Linked DNA regions of Homo sapiens: all the other regions are linked to region 2. The links come from fine-mapping of genetic effects on gene expression. A gene starts in region 2. Each other region holds a variant in brackets. All regions are shown on one strand. Distances are from middle to middle.

Region 1 (8,178 bases), 49 kb before region 2:
ATAGCATGTGTCTATAGTCCAAACTACTCAAGGAGCTGAGGCAGGAGGATTGCTTGAGCCCAGGGTTTTGAGGGTGCAATGAGCTGATTGTGTCTGGGAATAGCCACTGCACTCCAGCCTAGGCAACAGAGTGAGACCCCATCTCTTAAAAAAAAAAACACATATAGACTAAAAGTGAAAGGATGATAAAAGAAATTCTAACAAATGGAAACAAAAAGTGAGCAGGAGTAGCTACACTGATATCAGATAAAACAGACTTTAAGTCAAAGACAGTAAAAATAGGCAAAGAAGGTCATTATATAATGATAAAGGGATTGATTCAGCAAGAGGATATAACAATTTTAAATATATGTGTACCCAACACCAAAGCCCCAGATATATAAAGGAAATCTTATTAGATCTACAGGGAGAGATAGACTTCAATACAATAATAGTTTGGGGCTTCAACACCCCACTCTCAGCACGAGACAGATAATCTAGACAGAAAAATCAACAAAGAAACATCAGATTTAAACTACAATTTAGCCCAAATGGACCTAACAGATATTTGCAGAATATTTCATCCAACAGCTGCAGCACACACATTCTTCTCATCAGCACATGGAACATACTCCAGAATAGATCACATGTTGGGCCACAACACATTTTTTACAAAATCAGAATTATATCAAATATCTTCTCAGACCACAATGGAGTAAAACTACAAATTAATAACAAGAGGAACTCTGAAAACTGTACAAATACATGGAAATTAAACCATATGCTCCTGAACAACCACTGGGTCAATGAAGACCTTAAGAAAGAAATAAAAAAAATTCTTGAAACAAATCAAAATGGACACAGAGCATACCAAAATCTGTGGGATACAATAAAAGCAACACTAAAAGGAAAGTTTAAAGCAATAAATGCCTACATCAGGGCCGGGTGCGGTGGCTCATGCCAGTAATCCCAGCACCTTGGGAGGCCAAGGTGAGAGGCTTGCTTGAGCCCAGGAGTTCAAGACCAGCCTAGGCAACATAGTGAGATGCCGTCTTAAAAACAAAAAAACACACAAAATGCCTACATCAAAAAAGTAGAAAGATTTCAAATAAACAACCTAGGAATACACCTCAAGGAACTAGGAATGTAAAACCAAACCAAACCCAAAATTAGATGGAAGGAAATAACACAAACCAGAACAGAACTAAATGAAATAAAGACTAAAAACAAAAACAAAAACAAAAACAGAGGATCAGCAAAAGGAAATTTTTTTAAAAGATAATCAAAATTGATAAACCACTATCTAGACTAACCAAGAAAAAAAGAGATAAGGCCCAAATAAACAAAATCAGAACTGAAAAGGAGAGATTACGATTGAAACCACAGAAATACACAGAAAAAAAATCATCAGAGACTATTATGAACAACTATATGCTAACCAAATTAGAAGACCTAGAGGAAATGGATAAATTCCTGGACAACCTACCAAGATTGAAACAGGAAGAAATAGAAAACCTGAAACAGAACAATAATGAGTAATGAGATTGAATCAAAGTAAAATGCCTCCCAACAAAGAAATGCCCAGGGCTGGATGACTTCACTGCTAAATTCTACCAAACTTACAAAGAACTAACATAAATTCTCAAACTAATCCAAAAAATTGAAGAGGAAGGAATTCTTCCTAACTCATTCTACCAGGCCCACATTACGCCAAGACTAAAACTAGACAATTACACCATAAAACAGAAAACAGTCCTTGCTTTCAATTGTTTTGAGTATACACCCAGAAGTGGGATTGCTGGATTATATGTAATGAAATTTTTATTTCTATTTTTTAGGAACTGCCATACTGTTTTCTGTGGTGACCGCACCATTTTACATTCCCACCAACAATGCACAAGAGTTCCAGTTTCTCCACATCTTTGCCATTATTTGTTATGTTATTATATTATTATTATTATTATTGTTTTTGAGATGGAATCTCACTCTGTCGCCCAGGCTGGAGTGCAGTGGCATGATCTTGGCTCACTGCAAGCTCTGCCTCCTGGGTTCACACTATTCTCCTGCCTCAGCCTCCCGAGTAGCTGGGACTACAGGCACCCGCCACCACACCCGGCTAATTTTTTTGTATTTTTAGTAGAGACGGGGTTTCACCGTGTTAGCCAGGATGGTCTCGATCTCCTGACCTCATGATCTGCCCGCCTCGGCCCCCAGAGTGCTGGGATTACAGACGTGAGCCACTGTGCCCGGCCACGTTATTATTTTTTGTAGTAGTCATCCTAGTGGGTGTTAGGTGGTATCTCATTGTGGTTTTAATTTGCATTTCCTGAATGATTAGTGATGTCGAGCATCTTTTCACGTGCTCGTTGGCCACTTGTATATCTTCTTTGGAAAAATGTTTAGTCAAGTCCTTTGCCCATTTTTAATTGGGTTGTTTTTCCATTGTTGATCTGTACTTTTGCTCATCTTTAAACTAGGTTTGTTGTTTTCTTACTGTTGGGTTTTAGGAGTTCTTTACTTACTTTGAATATGAGTCTCTTTTTTCTTTTGAGATTGGGTCTTGCTCTGTTTCCCAGGCTGAAGCTCACTGGCACTATCATAGCTCACTGCAGCCTTGACCTCCTGAGCTTAAGCAATCTCCCACCTCAGCTGCCCAAGTAGCTGGGACTACAGGTGTGCACCACCACGCTTGGCTAAATTTTTAAATTATTTGTAGAGACAAGATCTCACGGTGCTGCCCAGGCTGGATGATTTCTTTATATATGTCTTGCAAATATTTTTGCAAGTTTGTGGATTTTCTTTTCATTTGTCTTGATTTCAATGGGAATGCTTCTAAAGTTTCTCCAGTAGAAATGGTGTTTGCTGTGGGTTTGATGGATACCACAACCATGTTAAGGATATTTCCTTCTACTCTTAGTTGATGAAGACTTAAAAATGTAAATCATGAGTCACTGTTGAGTTTTATTGAACCCTTTTATTTGATCTACTGTGATATGTAGGTTTTCTACTTTAAATTGTTTATTTGATTTATTATTATTATTATTATTTGAGATGGAGTCTCACTCTGTAGCCCAAATTGGAGTGCAATGGCACAATCTCGGCTCACTGCAACCTCTGCCTTTCGGGTTTAAGCGATTCTCCTGCCTCAGCCTCCCAAGTAGCTGGGATTATAGGCATGTGCCACCGTGTTGGCTAATTTTGTGTTTTTAGTAGAGATAGGGTTTCACCATGTTAGCTAGGCTGGTCTTGAACTCCTGACCTTAGGTGATCCATTCACCTCAGCCTCCTAAAGCGCTGGGATTACAGATGTGAGCCACAGTGCCCGGATGGTATGCTATTATTAATAGATTTTCTGATGCCATCCATGTGTTTGTCAAAAAAACTTTATTTGATCATAATGTTGTATAGGGAGAAACATGACAAACAGTACCTCAGCTAAGTTATCAAGCTTGGCTGATGATAAGTAATAAGTAATATCCATGATAAGTAATATCATATGATAAACAAAAACAAAAAAACTAAAACTGTAAACAAAACATACATTTCAAGATGAAATAAAATAAACGGCTGATGGAAAAATAAAATGACATTAGAGGAGGAAGGACCAAGAAAAGGGGTAATAAGAATGTAGTTGGGCTGGGCGCAGTGGCTCACGCCTGTAATCCCAGCACTTTGGGAGGCCGAGGCCGGTGGATCACCAGGTCAGGAGATCGAGACCATCCTGGCTAACACGGTGAAACCCCGTCTCTACTGAAAATACAAAAAATTAGCCAGGCGTGGTGGCAGGCGCCTGTAGTCCTAGTTACTGGGGAGGCTGAGGCAGGAGAATGGTGTGAACCCGGGAGGCGGAGCTTGCAGTGAGCCGAGATCGCGCCACTGCACTCCAGCCTGGGCGACAGAGCAAGACTCCGCCTCAAAAAAAGAAAAAAAAAAAAGAACGTAGTTGGTCAGATGTGCTACAGGGGACTTTGAATTGACTATCTAGCCAAAAGTCTTATTTCCTGGCTCACACAATACTGTGGAGGCGGGGGCAGAGGGGACACTCACCTGTCCCCAGGAGCCAAAATGGCACTGACTGGTCTCCAACTTAGGGCCTGGGTGAAGGTCTTCTCCACCAAGGCCAGGTGCCCAGGTTTCCCAGCTTGGGCCAGCTCAGCTGTCACAGGGGACCAGTAGCCTATTGGCCTGCTGGTCAGAGTGGCTGGTCCCACATCACATGGCACTACAGCCGAATGTTCATCTGCTCAGCTCCATTGCCTGCTAGGGAAGATGATGGTTCTTCAAAGAGTCCTTGGTTAGTGTTACAGCTCTGCAGCTTTGATTACCGTAGTGCTGATGGCTGTCTTGCTGTCTCTCGTCAACTGCTGCCTCTCCGTCTCACCAATCATCATCCTGCTGACCGCTGATCACCATCTGATATCGTTTGGGTGTGTCCCTACCCAAATCTCACCTTGAATCGTAGCTCCCATAATTCCCTCGTGTTGTGGGAGGAACCCAGTGGGAGATAA[T/C]TGAATCATGGGTGCAGTTTCCTCCACACTGTTTTCGTGGTAGTGAGTCAGTCTCATGAGACCCGATGGTTTTATAAGGGGAAACCCCTTTTGCTTGGCTGTCTCATTCGCTCTGGTCTGCTGCCATGTAAGACTTACCTTTTGCCTTCCACCTGATTGTGAGGCCTCCCTAGCCATGTGGAACCGCCCATTAAACCTCTTTTTCTTTCTTTCTTTCTTTTCTTTTCTTTTCTTTTTTTTTTTTTTTTCACAATCCAGAGGTCTTTTATTTTTTTAACACCTCTGATGCCATGAATTCATAGGGAAGAGTTTCCAGCAGCTCAGCCTCCTTCCCATTGGTTCTCACAAAGCATGCTTCTCTGGGTGGAGCAGGCTGGTGCTTCAGTTGAACCCAGGTACCTTTCTCTTTGGCTTCTTTCTGTTTCTGATTATTTTCCTTCACACATTTCAGGAAGCTATCTCAGCTCTTAGCATGCTTAATGCGCTCAATGCACACATTAATTCTCTCGGCATGAATCTTGCCCTTGTTTGTTTACAACAATGCCAACAGCATGCTGGGTAACATTGTAGACTCTTCCAGTTTTGCCACGGTAACCCTTGTGGTCCATTCCTTTTTGAACAGTACCCATTCCCTTGATGTCTACAATATCACCTTTCTTACAAATTCGCATATACGTGGCCAAAGGAACAACTCCATGCTTTCTAAAAGGCCTAGAGAACATATATTGGGTGCCTCTCCTCTTCCCCTTTGCGTTCATCATTTTGGCAAATTACTGGAAGATGGCAGTTACGGCCAAAAGGCACCTCTTTTTCTTACAAATTGCCCAGTTTCAGGTACGTCTTCATCAAGCAGCGTGAAAACAGACTAATATACCACCTCTCTGTCTTTCTTTCTTTGCCACCACTCCACCACTCTCTGATCACCACCTCTCTGTCTCACTGACCTATCACCGACGGGCGCCTCTTGCCACCTTACCAGTTGCCGTCTTGCTGTCTTGCCATCCCTTGCTGTTTCACCTCTCTGCCAATCACCAATTGCCACTGTCTCTGCTGTCTTACTAATTCTTCAGTGATCCCCACTGTCTCACTGTCTCACTGGCGATCACCATCGGCAGATCGGCAGTGCTGCACCAGTCACTGCCGCTTGCTCACTGTCTTTGTTCCTTCAAGGTCACCAAATGTTGCAGGACAGGTGAACCCCAAAATTGGGGCTTAGCTGGGGAGGGTTCTTGGCTTCGCTCTGGAAAGAATTCAAGGGTGAGCCAGTGATGTCAGACAGAGATTTTTTTTTTTTTTGAGACAGAGTTTCACTCTTGTTGCCCAGGCTGGAAGGCAATGGCACGATCTTAGCTCACCGCAACCTCTGCCTCCCAGGTTCAAGCGATTCTCCTGCCTCAGCCTCCTGAGTAGCTGGGATTATGGGCATCAGCCACCATGCCTGGCTAATTTTGTATTTTTAGTAGAGACAGGGTTTCTCCATGTTGGTCAGACTGGTCTTGAACTCCCAACCTCAGGTGATCTGCCTGCCTTGGCCTCCCAAAGTGCTGGGATTACAAGCGTGAGCCACCTTTTGTTTGTTTGTTTGTTTGTTTTTGACATGGAGTCTCACTCTGTCGCCCAGGCTGGAGTGCAGTATTGCAGTCTCGGCTCACTGCAACCTCTGCCTTCCAGGTTCAAGTGATTCTCCTGCCTCAGCCTCCCGAGTAGCTGGGATTACAGGCATCAGCCACCATGCCTGGCTAATTTTGTATTTTTAGTAGAGACAGGGTTTTACCATGTTGCTCAGGCTGGTCTCGAACTCCTGACCTCAGGTGATCTGCCCGCCTCAGCCTCCCAAAGTGCTGGGATTACAGGCGTGAGCCACCGGTTTTGTTTGTTTGTTTTTGAGATGGAGTCTCACTCTCTCGCCCAAGCTGGAGTGCATTGTCACAGTCTCAGCTCACTGCAACCTCTGCCTCCCAGGTTCAAGCAATTCTTCCGCCTCAGCCCCCTGAGTAGTTGGGACTACAGACACGTGCCATGCCTGGCTAATTTTTTTTGTATTTTTAAAAGAGATGGGGTTTCACCATGTAGCCAGGAGGGTCTCGAACTCCTGACCCTGTGATCCGCCCACCTCAGCCTCCCAAAGTGTTAGGATTACAGGCGTGAGCCACCATACCTGGCCTTAGACAGATATTTTTTATGTAATGATACTGCTCCTTGTGAAGCAGGGCTAACTCATAGGCAGTGCACCCAGAGTCAACAACATACAAGCTCTTGGCAGCTGTAGTTATACTCATGTCAACTCACTTTCAGTTATACGTCAGTTAAGGGGTGGGTCAATGCAAATTGAGGAGCAGGTTCTTTAGAAGTTTTAAGGAAAAGGGCGAAGATGTCCAGGTTGTTTCCATGGAAACAGGTGGGAACTTCTAGGTCATTGCCATGGCATCGGTAAACAGTCATGGCACTGGAGGGAGTATCTTATGCCCACGAGCAATGAGGCAGCCAGGGATTGCTTTTGTTGCCATCTGCTGGTTCCTGCTGGTTTCTTCACATCATCTCATCTGGACCAGATTCTGTATGGGTCTGCAGGGTTGTGGCCAGAAAACAAGTTCTTCCAGTTTCCTACCTCATTACCATGTGAAATGTTACCATTAGGAGAAACTGGGTTCACATTAGGGATCCCTAGGTGAGGGATTTACATATGGGAAATCTCTTTCCTACATTTGCAACTTTGCTATAAACCCAAAATTATTCTAAAATTAAAACATTTTAAAAAAGAATACAAAGTAAAGATCAGGTCGAAAACCACTATTTGATTATGATACATGTATGTATTTTCCATCTTTAAACTGAGATTTAACACACATGTGGTAAATGCACATCTCTATGATCAAAATATAGAACATTTCCAGCATACAGAAACCCCGTTGTCAATCTCCACCTGCTCCTTCCTGATAATTCCCATTCTGAGTCTCCTTCAAAGGTTAGTTCTGCCTGTTCTCAAAATTCACACAAAATCAAATCTTACAGTGTGTACTCACTCTGTCTGGGTCCTTTTACTGTTTTGTGAGATTTATCTATGTTATTAAATGTACTAGTACTTTGCTTTTTCATTGCTGTATAGTATTCCAATCTTTGAATATGCCATTATATTTTTTATCATTCACCTGCTGGTGGACACGGGGTTGTTCCAATTTCAGATCATTCTAAATAAAGCTGCTATGGATCTTTTCTTTCCTCTTTGATACTATTTCACTCTTTGGTTAACAGCATGCACTGTGGAGGCAGACTGGGTTCAAGTCTCAGCCCCACCATCTACCAGCTGTGTGACCTTGGGCCAGTTAGCTAAACTTGCAGTGCCTCCTCAGTTTCCTCATCTGTATAATGGAGGTCATATGATCTACTGAAGGGTAGGAACATTAAATGAATGAGTTTATAAAGCTGTTGGAAAAGTACCTGACTACCCTAGGCATTAAATAAACAAGCAATTATGATTCTGCCCCAACTCCCAAAGTCAGCAGGAATTCCCAAAAATGAGGACAGCAGCAGCTCAAAGCAGGAAAGCCAGGAGGTCACAGGGGACAGTGCTTCCAGGAACTGGGGGTGCTACCTGCCTACCCTTGCCCTAGTGGAGGGGGTGTAACACAGTAGCTTTCTCTTACAATTTATCAGATTTCATTAAAAGCATCCCACTGCTCAGCCATCCATG
Region 2 (8,177 bases):
GGTGACTCTTTCGGCGACTAGTGGCCAGAGATGCTTCTAAACATCCAACAATGCACAGGACAGCATCCCAGCGAGGAATCATCAGTCCCAAAGTCAACAGTGCAGGGTGGGAGAGACCCAGCTTTGAACACACCTCCTCCTGGAAGCCCCCCTGGATTTGACACACCTACTGCCCTTCCTCCCCACCCCTGCACCCTTTCCTTCTCCCCTTCGTAACCCCAGGAGAGGTTAAACAGGTAGGAAAGCCCAGGGCTGTGTCGGGATGGGGTTAGAGTCAGGGTCGCCAGGCTCCATCTCGTTGGGACACAGCGCCAGGCCCTGTCCCAGGTGTGGGGGTTCTGTGATTAGAGCCGCGGACGTGCCTCCGTCCTGTGCAGAGCAGAGGTTAGGGCTGGGATCAGAGCATCGTGGGGTGAGGGGATCAAGTTGTAGTTGAGCTGGGGTTACGGTCAGGGCCGGGGCTGGGATGAGAGCTCAGCTGGAGATGGTTGAGGGTTGTTGTTGCTGGACACCCTAAACTCCTTCCTGTTGAATTCTGACCTAGGTCAAACGAGGAGCGAGACGCGGCCTCCCCCAACATGCAGAGGATCCCAAATCTGAAAGAAGAACCGACACCCACAGATCTGGGGCCCACATCCGCACAATTTTCTGTTTTTCCCCCGAAGTGAGCAAGAGGCGTATTAATACCGCAGAGGGGAAGCGGGTGGGGCAGTCCCGTGACTGGGTCCTTGGGGCCCCAAAGCATCCTAGTGTTTGAGCTGAGTCTTGGCAGGAACCCAGCAGGCAGGGGGCTTTCACCCCTGGGAAGGACATGATGGGGCCGGTGGGGTTGGGCTGGGGCACCTGGGCTTGTAGAACTCAGAAACACCAAATTCCAGCTGGGCACAGTGACTCATGCCTGTAATCCCAGCACTTTGGGAGGCTGAGGCAGGAGGATCACTTGAGCCCAGGAGTTTGAGACCAGCCTGGGCAACATAGTGAGACCCCATCGCTACCAAAAATTTAAAAAATTAACCAGGCGTGGTGGTGCGTGCCTGTGGTCCCAGCTACTCAGGAGGAGAAAGTAGGAGGATCTCTTGAACCTCAGGAGGTTGAGGCTGCAGTGAGCCGAGATCGCACCACTGCACTCCAGCCTGGGAGACAGAGCGAGACCCTGTCTCTAAAAAAAAATATGGACAATTTTGTTGTATAGTTTAATTTAGTAGCAATGGTTGCTGGGCACAGGAATTTGTTTGTTTGTTTGTTTTTTGGGATCGCCCAGGCTGGAGTGCAATGGCGCAATCTCAGCTCACTGCAACTTCCGCCTCCCAGGTTCAAGCAATTCTCCTGCCTCAGCCTCCCGAGTAGCTGGGATTACAGGCACCTGGAACCACTTCTGGCTAATTTTTGCACTTTTCGGTAGAGACGGGGTTTCACTGTGTTGGCCAGGCTGGTCTCAAACTCCTGACCTCAGGTGATCTACTCGCCTCAGCCTCCCAAAGTGTTGGGATGACAGGTATGAGCCACCACGCCCAGCCGGACACAGTTCTTAGTGACTTGTGTGCATATTAACACATCTAATTTTCACCACCACCCTAGGAATTAGATGCTTTGGTGATCAATGCTGCCTTATGTGAAGCACAGAGAGGTTAGGTGACTTGCCAAAGGTCACACAGCACTTCAATGGAAGAACCAGGAATTTGAACACAGGTAGTGTGGGTCAGGCATCTGCAGCCCTAGCCACTATGCCACCTAGACTTCTATATACTAAGACCCCTTGGCACTTTGCCCACCCTCCTCATCCTTCCCAAAATGTGTCCCCTGATCCTTAACACCCTCCCCACTCTCAACTGGGGAACTCCAAATCCCCACTCCTGGGTGGGCTACCTCCCATGTCTCTCACTCCAGAAGACACCCCCCTGTGCCCCTACAACCCACCTCCCAACCAGGAGGGGGCTGGGCTGGGCCATCCACTAGGGCTGGACGTTCCCACTGTGTCAGGGAGGGGCCTGGCTGAAATGTCCCCTGGACCCTGCACTCCAGAACAGCTGGGACCATGCTGCCTTGTCTGTCACCCTGGACCGAGTGACCCTTGGTGCATGCCTGTTGAGTGAATGACTGACTCTGGTGGTCTGAGGCTGTTCATTTTGGGTCCCAAAATGTCCCCTCCACCTTGATCTGGGGTAATGGCCGAGGACCAAGATGGTAAAGAAGTGAGGGAGGGTCCGGGTGCGGTGGCTCATGCCTGTAATCCCAACACTTCGGGAAGCCGACGTGGGTGGATCACTTGAGACCAGGAGTTCAAGACCAGCCTGGTCAACTTGGTGAAACCCCATCTCTACTACAAATACAAAAAATTAGCCAGGTGTAGTGGCGCGTGCCTGTAATCCCAGGTACTTGGGAGGCTGAGGCAGGAGAATCACTTGAATCCGGGGAGGCAGAGGTTATGGGGAGCTGAGATCATGCCACTGTACTCCAGCCTGGATGACACAGCAAGACTCTGTCTCAAAAAAAGAAAAAAAATCAAAAAGGAAGGGAAAGAGTTGGCCGCTGAGCATTGGAGAGGTGGCTGGGGGCTGCTGAGTGGACATAGGGACAGCATTTGAGGCCAAGCCAGGGTGGGGTCACTGGGGGATTAGTCTTGAGGGCAGGTCGGGTTGGGGATCCTAAGGGGGGGTCTGCCGTGGTGGCCAGGTGGGAGTGAGGACCCTGGAGGGTCTGTTTTGGGGGGCAAGACAGGAGGTAGAGCCCCAGGGAAGGCTGTCATGGGGGCAGGATGAGAGTGGGGAGGCCATGGAGGAGGCAGTCCCAGGGACAAGGCAAACCAGGCAGGGGGAACCCTAAGAGGGGGATGTCACCTGGTCCAGGGGGAAGAGGGAGCAGCTGTGGGGATGGGGAGAAGCAGGTTATTTTTTTGAGACGAGCCAGGCGCGGGTGCTGGGTGAGCGGTGGGGTGGAAGATCGGGAAGTGCTTGGACAAGGCCTGGACCTGGGCCGGGGTGTCTGGGTGGATGGACGGACTGTCCCACCAATGGGGACACACGAGGAGAAGGAGGAGGAAGCTTGGGAATAAGTCCAGCTGGGCCATGTTGTGAGGACATGGGGATGAAGTCTTAGTTCCAGGATGGGGCTGGGATGGAGTTTGGTGTTTCTTTTCTGTTTTTCTTTCTTTTTTCTTTTCTTTTTTTTTTTTGTGAGACAGAGTTTAGCTTTTGTTGCCCAGGCTGGAATGCAATGGCGCGATCTCGGCTCACCGCAACCTCTGCCTCCCGGATTCAAGCGATTCTCCTGCCTCAGCCTCCCGAGTAGCTAGGATTACAGGTGCCCACCACCATGCCCAGCTAATTTTTTTTTTTTTTTTTTTTTTTTTGTATTTTCAGTAGATACAGGGTTTCACCATGTTGGCCTTGAACTCCTGACCTCAGATGATCCACCTGCCTCGGCCTCCCAAAGTGCTGGGATTACAGGCGTGAGCCACTGTGCCCGGTCTCTCTCTCTCTCTTTCTCTCTCTCTTTCTTTCTTTCATCTCACTGTGTTGCCCAGGCTGATCTTGAACTCCTGGGCTCAAGTGATCCACTCACCTCTGCCTCCCCAGTAGCTGGGATCACAGGCATGCACCACCATGCCCTGCTAGTTTTTATAGTTTTTGTAGAGACAACGGCTTGCTATGTTGTCCAGGCTGGTCTTGAACTCCCAGGCTTAAGTGATCCTCCCACCTCAGCCTCCCAAAGTGCTGGGATTACAGGCGTGAGCCACCGTGCCCAGCCAAAACTGTCCATATTTGACCTGAATATTATCTCACGTATCTTTCTTTCCCCCCGCTTCCCTCCTTCCCTCCTACTCCTCCTTCTCCCTCTCCTTCCTTCTGTCTTTTTTTTCCCCTTCCTCTGCCTCTCTCTCCTCTTCCCTTTTTTCTTGCTGGGACTCAAACCTGGGACATTTGACCTGGGAGCCTATTTGCTCAATCATCAAGAGACATAATCTCATGGTGGGGTGTCTGCTGGTAAGTGCCGGGTGGCAGGATCCCAACTCCAGGCCGTCCTTCTAACCCAAGAGGCCCTGCCTCTGCCTAGAGCCTTCCGTGGCTCCCCAGGGCCCTCTGTGATCGGCCATAGTGGTATGATTCAGTGTGCAGTAACAGTGGTTCACATCTTGACGCTACCACTCACCTCCTTCAGCCCTGTGGGAACTTGCTGCTTAACATCTCTAGTTCTCACCCAATTCTCTTACCTGAGAAATGGAGATAATAATAACACGGACTTCACCCGGGTGTGGGGAGCACCAGGAGAGGCCATGCGTGTAATGTTATCCGGGTGGCAAGCCCATATTTAGGTCTATGAAAATAGAAGCTGTCAGTGGCTCTACTTTCAGAAGAAAGTGTCTCTCTTCCTGCTTAAACCTCTGTCTCTGACGGTCCCTGCCAATCGCTCTGGTCGACCCCAACACACTAGGAGGACAGACACAGGCTCCAAACTCCACTAAGTGAGTACGTATCTGGTGTGTTGGGGGTTGGCCATGGGAAGTGGAGATCAAAGCGCCCTTGGAAGAAACGACCTTGGGCTGAGCCTCAAGGGATGACCAGCAGGAGGTCACAACCAGAGAAGGGAGGTGGTGGGTGGTGAGGGGGCGGGGGTGGGGGCCGCAGTGTGGACAGAATCTCGAGGCATTCGAGTCCCTGATTTGGGGAAGTGAAAGCAGGCCATCTGGTCTGAGATGAGCTTGGTGAGTGCGCTGGGCCGATCATAGAGGGCCCTGGGGAGCCATGGAAGACTCTAGGCAGAGGCAGGACCTCTTGGGTTAGAAGGACGGCCTGGAGTTGGGATCCTGCCACCCAGCACTTACCAGTAGACACCCCACCATGAGATTATGTCTCCAGATGATTGAGCAAATGGGCTCCCAGCTCAAGGGTCCCGGGTTTGAGTTCCAGTCCCACCACTGCGTGATGGGGACAAATGACTTACCCTCTTGGAACCTCAGTTCCACTGAGAGAGGCCCCACAGAATGAGGACAGTCCCCCAGCATCCTGCCAGTAGGTTTACTGAGCACCTACTGTGTGCTGGTGCTTTGAATACTCCCAATTTACAGATGAGCAAACTGAGCTGCTCATCCAGGAAGAAGCCAGGACTCGGACTCAGGTCTGTCCAGCTGCCTCCCTGGACAGTTCCAGTCCCAGGATGGTCTCTGGGTTCCTCTCACAATGTCAAAAGGGCCAGCTTGAGCTGCCGCTAATCAGAGCCTGGCCGCGCCACACCCCACCTCCCTGAGGCTCCGAGAGAAGGGACTTACCTATAGTCAAGCAGCGAAAGAAGGTAGCCCGTGACCTCCAGGCCTGAAGGACCCCAAGTCCCATGCTCCTCAGCACATAGTAGATGCTTTAAAGTCAGAGGACTTGGTCGGGCGCAGTGGCTCACGCCTGTAATCCTAGCACTTTGGGAGGCTGAGGAGGGCAGATCACCTGTGGTCAGGAGTTCGAGACCAGCCTGATCAATATGGTGAAACCCTGTCTCTACTAAAATACAAAAATTAGCCAGGTGTGGTGGTGGGTGCCTGTAGTCCCAGCTACTTGGGAGGCTAAGACAGGAGAATCGCTTGAACCCGGGAGGTGGAGGTTGCAGTGAGCCAAGATGGTGCCATTGCACTCTAGCCTGGGTGACAGAGCGAGACTCCATCTCAAAAAATAAAAAAATAGGCCATGCACAGTGGCTCACGCCTGTAATCCCAGCACTTTGGGAGGCCGAGGCGGGCGGATCATGAGGTCAGGAGTTTGAGACTAGCCTGGCCAACATAGTGAAAACCCGTCTCTACTAAAAATACAAAAATTATCTGGTCATGGTGGCACGTGCCTATAGTCCCAGCTACTCGGGAGGCTGAGGCGGGAGAATCGCTTGAACCCAGGAGGTGGAGGTGGCAGTGAGCCGAGATCGTGCCCCTGCACTCCAGCCTGGGCAACAGAGCGAGACTCCATTTCAATAAATAAATAAATAAATAAATAAAGTCAGAGCACTTTACAGATGCCCTGGGGACATTGGCAGAGGAGAAGGCTGAGGCCTGGGTTATGGGCTCTTAGCATTTCTCAGTGGGACGTGGCACAGAGTAGATGTTTCATAAATGTTTAGAATCCGAAGACCCACTGTGCGCAGCCCGGCACCAAAAACCTCAGGTATGCTGTGATCTCATTGGATCCTATCTTGGCCTCATGAGTTGGGTGCTGTCATCAGCCCATTTTACAGAGGGGAAAACTGAGGCTGAGAATGGTTGAATCCTTGGCTGAGGTCACACAGGCAAGGCAATTATAATAAACGCTGGTGATATTTTTAGCACAGATCACCAACCAACAGTATAGGTGTTCTTGGTATCATCATTTTACGAATGAGGAAAGAAGTTTCCAGGTTAATTAAGCCATTTGTCAAGATCTCATGGGTGCACCTGCTGTGTAGCTCAAGTGTGATGGGCTCTGGAGTGCCCCACTTCTGATCTCAGGCTGCTATCTCTCCACACCAGCTGTGTCTCCCTGCTAACCACGCTAGTGAGTCCAGATTGTAGACTAAACAAAATCAGCAAATGGCCCCTGAGTGCCACCAAGTCCCAGATGCTATCCTGTGCTGGTAACTAGGATTTGATGGCTCACCCTAACCATCATTAAATCCCAAATCAGCCAGAGCTGTGATTGTGCCCGCTGAGTGGACTGCGTTGTCAGGGAGTGAGTGCTCCATCATCGGGAGAATCCAAGCAGGACCGCCATGGAGGAAGGTCAATATTCAGGTAGGAGGACTCTCTGGTTCTAACGTTGGCAGAAGCAATGACCCTTAGCTACTGCCTTTCACCCAGAAGAGAAGCGGGGCTCCCCAGTCCCTCTCTGGGAAAGAGGGTGAATTTCTAAGAAAGGGACTGGTGTGAGTAAGGAGGTGAGGCCGGACTGACTTTCCTGGCACAGAGCCAGGAAGGAGTGGCAAATTGAGGGCCCCTCCTTTTTCTGATTCAACACCCTCCTGACAAAAAAAGAAAAAGAAAAAAAAAAAAAAACGGCTTCAGCTAGGGAGCGGGGAGCCCAATAGAGTCAGAGGCCAAATAGAACAGGAACTTGGAACAAGCAGAATTTAGCATAATGAATCCTCCAAGCCAGGGTGAGTGCAGAGGGCCAGGGGCTTGAGGTGGGACATCCAGATAGACCTTTGGGTGGGGTCTGGGAGAGGTTTGGAGGTCTGGATGTTGGATGACACCTGGGAAAGTGGCTGGGGAGTGGCTCCGATGTTGGGGAAGAACTGGGACTCAGTGTCCTGGGTTTAGGGAAGGGACTCCAGGTTGGGGACAGGTGCAGAGGTGTAAGGGTGGGCGTTGGGGCTCAGAGGGGAAGGAAAAAGCAGGACCTAGTCTTCTGGAAGTGAAGCTGGGGGCCTGGCATTGGTTGTTGGGGCTGAGGGAGTCTTAGCTCTTAGTCCCAGATCTGTCTCTGTGGTCAGTGACCCAGCCCTGAGTCAGGTAAGGAAGCTGTGCAAATGGAGCTGGGGGTCCACTGAGACCCTTTGCTTCAGTGTGGGCTCTGGACAAGCTCCCAGGCTGTCGGGGGCTCTGGGTAATGGAGAGACGGACAGGGCCAGCATCCAGCTTCACCCTGCACCCATAGTCAGTCCCTCCACCCCCGGCAGAGATCGAGGAGCTTCCCAGGAGGCGGTGTTGCAGGCGTGGGACTCAGATCGTGCTGCTGGGGCTGGTGACCGCCGCTCTGTGGGCTGGGCTGCTGACTCTGCTTCTCCTGTGGCGTGAGGACACCCCCAGCTCCATGTGGTCCCCCCAACTCATGGGGCCCTTCTGTGTTCCCTCCTTCACCCCCATCTCAGAGCTGGGGGAGCCCAACGCATCCTCTCAAAACCCAATTTTCCCATCCTGCCTCCCATCTTGCCACTGCCAGCCCTTTCCCATCCCCCACCCTCCAGAGCCCCTCACCCCACACCCAGCATCCCTGTCCTCCACACTTTCAGCACCTCCATGGCTTATACCCAAGACCTCCATCCCCAGCTGGGAGGTGGGGTGCAGGCAGGTGGGGGCACTGACAATCCCCCCTCTCCACTCCTCTTCTCTCCCCCTCCCCAGACTGGGACACCACACAGAGTCTAAAACAGCTGGAAGAGAGGGCTGCCCGGAACGGTATGAAGGGGTCAAGGTGGAGGGGGTGGGGGTGAGGGTTAGGATGCCCAGC
Region 3 (8,178 bases), 37 kb before region 2:
ACAGCATGGCAGGTGCCTAGAATTCCACCAGCAGAGCTGCAGGAGGAGCCTGCCACCGGGGAGGTGTATTAAAATATAATGTATTAATAGGAAGTCTGAGGTCCAGTAAGGCCACCAGCTCAGGAGACACCTGCCATTGTGAATAGCTTCTCATATACACAGATCCCTAGAGAGAGGACACATCACAGCTGGGGGCCACCTGGGGAAGCACCAGGGTCTGTTATGAGTCAGAGTGGTGGGGAGGGGGGACTGTGGGCCAGAGCCTTTATTATGGTTTCTGTGGAAAGGAAAGGTCAAGGCCAGGTGAACAGGCTTAGGATTGGGAAGTGTGAAGCATTTTTTGGGCTCTGGGGCACAGGGGCTGCCCCTCGCTGTCTGACACCTGGCCTTGGGGTGATTAGTACAGGATAGTGGCTTGGAGTACAAGAGCCCAGTAAGGCAGGTCGCTGGAGGTGTGGACTCCAGACTGGTTGGCTTGTATTTGAAAATCACACACTCAATAGGTGGAGTCCACCCAAGGACAGGTTGTGAGAAGAGAGGCAGGAACTCAAGGCATCGTGAGTCAGGCATATTATCAGGTATGCAGAGGGATTCAAGTCCAGCATACACACGCAGGGCAGATGTTAAGGCATCAAGATGACAGAAGGTAGAAACACAGCTCATGTAGCTGGCGGGGACAGAGGCTCACATTCCGCATGGGCTTTGCAGCTTCAAGCAGTATTGGAACAGAGGAGAGCCCAACAACGTTGGGGAGGAAGACTGCGCGGAATTTAGTGGCAATGGCTGGAACGACGACAAATGTAATCTTGCCAAATTCTGGATCTGCAAAAAGTCCGCAGCCTCCTGCTCCAGGGATGAAGAACAGTTTCTTTCTCCAGCCCCTGCCACCCCAAACCCCCCTCCTGCGTAGCAGAACTTCACCCCCTTTTAAGCTACAGTTCCTTCTCTCCATCCTTCGACCTTCACAAAATCTCTGGGACTGTTCTTTGTCAGATTCTTCCTCCTTTAGAAGGCTGGGTCCCATTCTGTCCTTCTTGTCATGCCTCCAATTTCCCCTGGTGTAGAGCTTGTTTTTCTGGCCCATCCTTGGAGCTTTATGAGTGAGCTGGTGTGGGATGCCTTTGGGGGTGGACTTGTGTTCCAAGAATCCACTCTCTCTTCCTTTTGGAGATTAGGATATTTGGGTTGCCATGTGTAGCTGCTATGTCCCCTGGGGCGTTATCTTATACATGCAAACCTACCATCTGTTCAACTTCCACCTACCACCTCCTGCACCCCTTTGATCGGGGACTTACTGGTTGCAAGAGCTCATTTTGCAGGCTGGAAGCACCAGGGAATTAATTCCCCCAGTCAACCAATGGCACCCAGAGAGGGCATGGAGGCTCCACGCAACCCCTTCCACCCCCACATCTTCCTTTGTCTTATACATGGCTTCCATTTGGCTGTTTCTAAGTTGTATTCTTTATTTTATTATTATTATTACTATTTTTCGAGATGGAGTTTCACTCTTGTCGCTCAGGCTGGAGTGCCATGGCGCGATCTTGGCTCACTGCAACCTCTGCCTCCCGGGTTCAAGTGATTCTCCTGCCTCAGCCTCACGAGTAGCTGGAATTACAGGCAGGCGCCACCAGACCCGGCTAATTTTTTGTATTTTTAGTACAGATGGGGTTTCTCCGTGTTGGTCAGGCTGGTCTTGAACTCCCGACCTCAGATGATCTGCCCGCCTCGGCCTCCCAAAATTGCTGGGATTACAGGTGTGAGCCACCGCGCCTGGCCTATTATTTTTTGTAAGAATAAAACAGGTTTATTGGGATTTGGGACTCTGAACAGTTCTGTCTCTACTACCTGATCTCCTCCTACCACGACTTTGGGATCTAGAGGAGCTTTGGCTCCGGCTGTGACGGCTCCGGCCGTTCTCACTGCGGCTGCACCGGCCCCCGCTGCGGTCACTATTTCTTCCTCTGCTAGGTGAATTGTGCCTCTCCTGGCTCTTTGACATGTGCTAGTGAGATTTCTTCCTTTTCCTTTCGGATTCCCCATTTCTTTTGTAGGAATGGTCTGGACTAGGGTTCTCCTTCCCCGCAGCCTGTAGTATTCATCGTGGTGGCCCACCCTCTCTCTCCCCTTGGAGCTCTTGCCAAAGGAGGAGACAAGCAGAGGTCTCTATTGGATTTCTCAACACCTGAAGAAAGTTGCAGTGTTTTCCTCTTGGACATTGTTGTATTTCAAATAAACCACAAATCATCATTTTCCACCGAGCCACTGGGCAGAATTCACACTGAAGCTGTCGTCCTGCGTACATACCATCGTCCGTTAAACAGAGAAAGAGCTGCTTGGCATTCTTCTTCCGACTGGTACTGAACATATATACTTGCCCCTCAGGTGAGGTTCCAAGTTGCAACTGACCTTGAACTGAATCACTCTCCCCACGTTATTTTTTAATTACTATTTTTTTTTAAAGATGGGGTCTTGCTCTGTCGCCAGGCTGGAGTGCAGTGGCGCGATCTAGGCTCACTGCAACTTCCGCCTCCCGGGTTCAAGCGATTCTCCTGCCTCAGCCTCCCGAGTAGCTGGGACTCCACTAAAAGTACAAAAATTAGCTGGGCGTGCACCACTGCGCCCAGCTAATTCTTGTATTTTTGGTAGAGACGGGGTTTCAACATGTTGACCAGGATGGTCTCGATCTCTTGACCTCGTGATTCGCCCGCCGCGTCCTCCCAAAGTGCTGGGATTACAGGCCTGAGCCACCGCGCCCAGTCTCTCCCCACGTTCTTGAACTCGGGCAGCACATCCTCACAGAAATCTAGGAACTGTTGGTAGGTTTCTTCCTCGCTGTACTCCAGGCTTGCTTCGGAGTCATAGTCATCCCTCCTGCACTGCTCCTTTCCAAACACTGTAAACATGCTTTTAATAAGAAGGGTAGGACTGGATGTTGGGAAATCATGTGAACATCTATCTCCAAATCTGCAAGCTCCTGTTTTACTGTAGAAGGGACAATTAACTCCATCCTTCTCCATGACTCTGAAATCCAAGGGGGGGTTCCGGGTTTTGCCATGTGGCGCCATTTTCCAACTCATTTTCAGCCTGATCCAGCATCTTCTGGACAGCTTCCGGTTTTTGTTTCTTCTGTCGTTTCTGTTCCTCCTCCTCTCTCTCTTTCCTCTGCTGTTCTTCCCATTGTTCCTTTAACTTTCGCTCTTGTTCTTGCCGTTTTCTAGCCACCTCTTCCTTTTCCTTCTTTATTCTGAATTCTTCTTGTGCCTTCTGCTCTCTCAGCAACCACTCCTCATGTAATCTTTGCCTCTCTCTTCCCCATAGCTTTTCTAGTTGTTGTTTTTCAATAAAAGTGTCCTCCTCTTTCTGTGAGAGTCCTGAGTCCCTCAGTGGAGCAAGTTCCTGCTGGCGTTTCTTTCGTTTCTCCTTCTTCAGGGCGGCCCTGTACTTTTTGTGGCTTGGTTTCTCTGGAAATGTCACCTTTTCGGGCGCAGCCATCTTGCCGGCACCGCCCCGCCCCTCTAGTTGTATCCTTTATAATAAACTGGTAAACATTGTAACCGCAGATTCAGCCCAATCTGGTTCAACTTTGTGTAATAAAATGGCGAGTTGTTTTTCAGTTGTCGTGGACCCCCAGGTTGCAAGTTACATACCCTGGGCATGTCCAGATGAACGAAGCGTGCAAATCCACGTGGAACCTAAGTGCTCAGACCGAGGAACAGGGACTGAGTTAAGAAGTGGACACCACGTGGCATGATCCTTGATCCAATCAGATTGAGCCCTGGCGTGATCCAGTCAGATCAAGCCTCCTGAATCCCCTCATTACAAGATCCAATCATATCATGCCTCACTACCCTCTGTATATAAAATCTGCCCCAGCCTCCAACTTGGAGAGACAGATTTGGGCCAGACTCCTGTGTCCTTGCTTGGCTGCCTTGCAATAAATTTTTCTCTCTACAAAACCCCAGTGCTTCAGTGTTTGGTTTTCCACTGTGAGCCAGGGAACTGACCCAATTTAGTTCGGCAACAACATAAGCAAAATGTTTTCCCGAGTTCTCTAAATCATTCTAGGAAATTACTGAACTTGAGATGGACTTATGGGAAGCCACAATTTTTTGCCAGCCTGGCAGAAGTGTGGGTAGACAGTGCAAAGACTGTCTTTGCACCTGGCATCTGAAGCAGGGTCAGTCTTTTGGGACCTAGCCCTTTAATTTGTGGAATGTGGTGCTAACTCCAGGAAGCTAGTGTTAGAATTAGAGAATTTCTTTGGTGTAAATAAGACACCACAAACATCACTTCCTTTCTACTGATGTTGACCCCAAAGATGCACCTTCATAAACAGCTTGCAAGCTAAATTCCGTCTTACTTAAGAGTTGACCTTCAACAGGCAGAGGAACTGTGAGGCTTGTTCTATGTCGTCTCCCAGAGGCTCCCAGGGGGATTGGACCCAATTGCCCTTTTCAGCTCATTGGTGCCTTTGTATTGGGTTCCTTCCTTTCCCTACCTGCTCCTCTTCATTCTTCCCATCCCCTGCTGATGCTTCTTGGAATCTCCTCCCAGATAAGCTACTTATATCCAAATCCTTGTCTCAAGCTCTTTAGTAGGGGAAACCCAAGCCAAGCTTATATTTTGATAACTACCAGGCATGGCTCCTTTTATGTGGGAGACAAGGTCTTGCTCTGT[C/T]ACCCAGGCTGAAGTGCAGTGGTGCAATCATGGCTCACTGCAGCCTTGACCTCATGGGCTCCAGTGATCCTCCCACCTCAGCCTCCTGAGTAGCTGGGACCACACGTGTGCATCACCATATCTAGCTACTTTTAAAAAATTTTTTGTAGAGATGGGGTCTCACTGTGTTGCCCATGCTGTTCTTGAACTCCCGGGCTCAACTCATCCTCCTGCCTCAGCCTCCCAAAGTGCTGAGTTTACAGGCCTGGGCCGCTGTGGCCTGCCTGGTCATGGCTCTTCTCTATCAAAATGTTCTCAGGTATTCTTGTGCAATTTTTGGATGATTTTTGAGTCTACTCTGGCTTTAAAGGTTTTCATTTACTTGTGGAATAAGTCACGTGTGCACACAGAACCAAAACGTATCAATCTCTACAGTGAAAACTAAAGCTCATTCCGTCCCCGTTTTCCCATCTCAAGAGGTTACTGTCCCCACTTGTAGCTTTGCTATTTATTCCCAACTAAAGAGTATAACCTCTTTATTATATTCCAAATAATGAGCTTGTCAAGTTTGTTTTAAAATCTGTTTGGAAATCCTTCAACAGAATTTTGAAAATCTATCTGTGGAGTAGGTGGAGCCCAAAGGATTTTTATTTTTATTTTTATTTTTTGAGACAGAGTCTCACTCTGTCACCCAGGCTGGAGCGCAGTGGTGCAATCTCAGCTCCCTGCAGCCTCTGCCTCCTGGGTTCAAGCAGTTCTCCTGCCTCAGCCTCCTGAGTAGCTGGGATCACAGGCACCCGCCACCATGCTCGGCAATTTTTTTGTATTTTTCGTAGAGACAAGGTTTCACCACATTCGCTAGGCTGGTCTCGAACTCCTGACTTCAGGTGATCCACCCGCCTTCGCCTCCCAAAGTGCTAGGATTACAGGTGTGAGTCACCGTGCCCAGCCTATGAAATTTTCTTTTCTTTTACAAAGTAGATTCACATTGTTGTGTAACCATCACCACCATTCATCTCGCAAACTTTTTCATCTTCCCAAGTGAAACTCTGTCCCCAGGAAACACTGACTCCCCATTCCCCGTTCCCCAGCCCCTGGCACCCACCATTCTACTTTCTGTTTCTATGAATCTGATGACTCTAGGGACCCCGCATGAATGGAATCATACAGCCTTTGTCTTATTATGACTGGCTTATTTCACTTAGCATATTTTCCTCAAGGTTCATCATGTTGTAGCATGTGTCAGAATGTCCTCCCTTTTTTTTTTTGAGATGAAGTCTGACTCTGTCGCCCAGGCTGGAGTGCAGTGGGGCGATCTCCGCTCACTGCAAGCTCCGCCTCCCAGGTTCACGCCATTCTCCTGCCTCAGCCTCCCGAGTAGCTGGGACTACAGGCACCCACCACCACGCCCGGCTACTTTTTTTTTTTTTTTGTATTTTTAGCAGAGACAGGGTTTCACCATGTTAGTCAGGATGGTCTTGATCTCCTGACCTCTTGATCCACCCACCTCAGCCTCCCAAAGTGCTGGGATTACAGGCGTGAGCCACTGCGCCCAACCAAGTTCTTTAATTAGTCCAGAAGTCCCTAGAGCTTCCTAGATACAAGATCGCATCTTCCAAATATTGTCAGCTTTGACTCATCCTTTCCAATATTTACAGGTCTTAATTCTTTATATTTCCTTATTGCATCGACAAAATAGCAAGAGGGGCATCTTTATCGTGTTCTTGATTTTACTAAATATGCTTCTCACATTTCACTATTGAGTAAGGCGTTTCGGCAGGCTCACAGAAATTACCCCTTATCCAGCCAGAATCAGTGAGCTAGGGCTGCCACGACAAAGTAGCACAAAGCGGGGACTTTGAACAACAGAAATTTATTCTCTCACAGTCCTGAAGGCCGGAAGTCTGAACTCAAGGTGTCAGCAGGGCTGTGTTCACTCTGAATTGCGTAGGGGAGAAACCTTCCCTGCGTTTCTCTAGATTCTGGTGGTTGCCGACAACCTTTGGCGTTCCTTGGCTTGTACACCCATTGCTGGAATCTCTGCTTCTGTTATCATGATTTTCTCCCTTCCTACCTCTTCACGTCATCTTCCCTCTGTGTCTCTCTTCTCTCATTTTGCTTTGTTTTGCTTTTAAGAGATAGGGGCTGGGTGAGGCAGCTCACACCTATAATTCCAGCACATTGGGAGGCAGAGGTAGGAGGATCTATTTGAGGCCAGGAGTTCGAGACCAGCCTAGGCAGCAAAGTGAGATCAAATCTTTACAAAAAAAAAAAAAAAAAAAAAAAAATAGAAAAACTGGCTGGGTGCTGTGGCTCACATCTGTAATCCCAGCACTTTGGGAGGTCGAGGCGGGGGGATCACCTGAGATGAGGAGTTCAAGACCAGCCTGGCCAACATGGTGAAACCCCATCTGTACTAAATTCAAAAAATCAGCCAGGAGTGGTGGCATGCGCCTGTAACCCCAGCTACTTGGGAGGCCGAGGCAGGAGAATTGCTTGAACTCAGGAGGCGGAGGTTGCAGTGAGCCAAGATTGCACCATTGCACTCCAGCCTGGGCAACAAGAACAAAACTCTGTCAAAAAAAAAAAAGAAAGAGAGAGAGAGAGAAGAAAGGAAGGAAGGAAGGAAGAATAAAAAGAAAGAAGAGAGAGAGAGAAAGAAAGAAAGAAGGAAAGAAGAGAGAAAGAAGAGAGAAAGAAGGGAAAGAAAGAAAGAGAGAAATAAAGAAAAAGAAAGGAAGGAAGGAAGAAAAAGAAAGAAAAGAAAGAAAGAAAGAAAGAAAAAGGAAGGAGGAAAGAAAGAAAGAAAAAGGAAGGAAGGAAGGAAGGAAGGAAGGAAGGAAGGAAAGAAAGAGTTGGGCATGGTGGTGCTCCCCTGCAGTTGCAGCTACCTGGAAGGCTCAGGCAAGAGGATCACTTGTGCTCTGGAGGTCAAGGCTGCAGTGAGCTGTGATTCTGCCACTGGGCAAACCGAGTGAGACCCTGTCTCAAAAAAAAAAAAAAGGGGATCTTGCTCTGTTGCCCAGGCTGGAGTGTAGTGACATGAGATTGCCCTGCCTCAGCCTCCTGAGTAGCTGGGACTACAAACATGTGCCACCACACACAGCTAAATTTTTCTGTAGAGGTGGGGTCTTCTTGTGTTGTCCAGGTTGGTCTCCAACTCCTGGCCTCAAGCACTTCTTCAGCCTAGTGCTGGGATTACAGGTGTAAGCCACCACAGTTAGCCCCAGCATTGCTTTTGGGGGACACTGTTCAATCCCCTACACCGTGGACATTTTGAATTTCTTCTGGATCTTACCAAAAATGGTTCTCATGTTTCACTATTAAGGAAGACATTTCTGTAAGATCCTGGAAATTGCCACTTCTCAAATTAAGGAAGCTTTATCCTGTTCTGTGTTTACTAAGCATTTATTTTTTGTGCTTATCTTCATTTTAAATGCAGAATGAATGTTGAATAGACATATCTCATAATTGTAATGTGGAGAGGACAAAAACAAGTTCCGGAAGGATATAGACCATGTG

What was found.
Region 1: its variant is fine-mapped to the expression of FCER2 in whole blood (TOPMed, PIP above 0.99).
Region 3: its variant is fine-mapped to the expression of FCER2 in whole blood (INTERVAL, PIP 0.95).

The regions. Positions count from the first base shown.
Region 1 is chr19:7,747,754-7,755,931 of GRCh38, reverse strand. It overlaps the pseudogene RPL21P129. Among named protein-coding and RNA genes, the nearest start is that of CD209, 4.3 kb to the right of the region's middle. RefSeq lists a silencer at 6,755-7,049, an enhancer at 6,829-7,330, cis regulatory regions at 7,550, 8,085 and promoters at 6,766-8,178, 7,956-8,178, 7,146-8,178, 6,766-8,178, 8,078-8,178 and 5 more. The variant T/C (reference allele first, on the strand shown) is at 4,488.
Region 2 is chr19:7,698,304-7,706,480 of GRCh38, reverse strand. It overlaps FCER2 (Fc epsilon receptor II), which reads left to right and starts at 4,350. Exons shown (of 11, transcript NM_001220500.2): 1 at 4,350-4,466; 2 at 6,636-6,742; 3 at 7,627-7,740; 4 at 8,072-8,125. The coding sequence starts at 6,721. LOC105372262 (a long non-coding RNA gene) reads left to right here. Exons shown (of 5, transcript XR_936296.2): 2 at 1-236; 3 at 545-664; 4 at 1,579-1,689; 5 at 3,360-3,401. RefSeq lists enhancers at 916-985, 4,354-4,463, 6,567-6,636.
Region 3 is chr19:7,735,771-7,743,948 of GRCh38, reverse strand. CD209 (CD209 molecule) reads left to right here. Exons shown (of 7, transcript NM_021155.4): 7 at 709-3,956. The coding sequence ends at 910. It also overlaps the pseudogene LOC100129391. Among named protein-coding and RNA genes, the nearest start is that of CD209, 7.7 kb to the left of the region's middle. RefSeq lists an enhancer at 402-501. The variant C/T (reference allele first, on the strand shown) is at 4,678.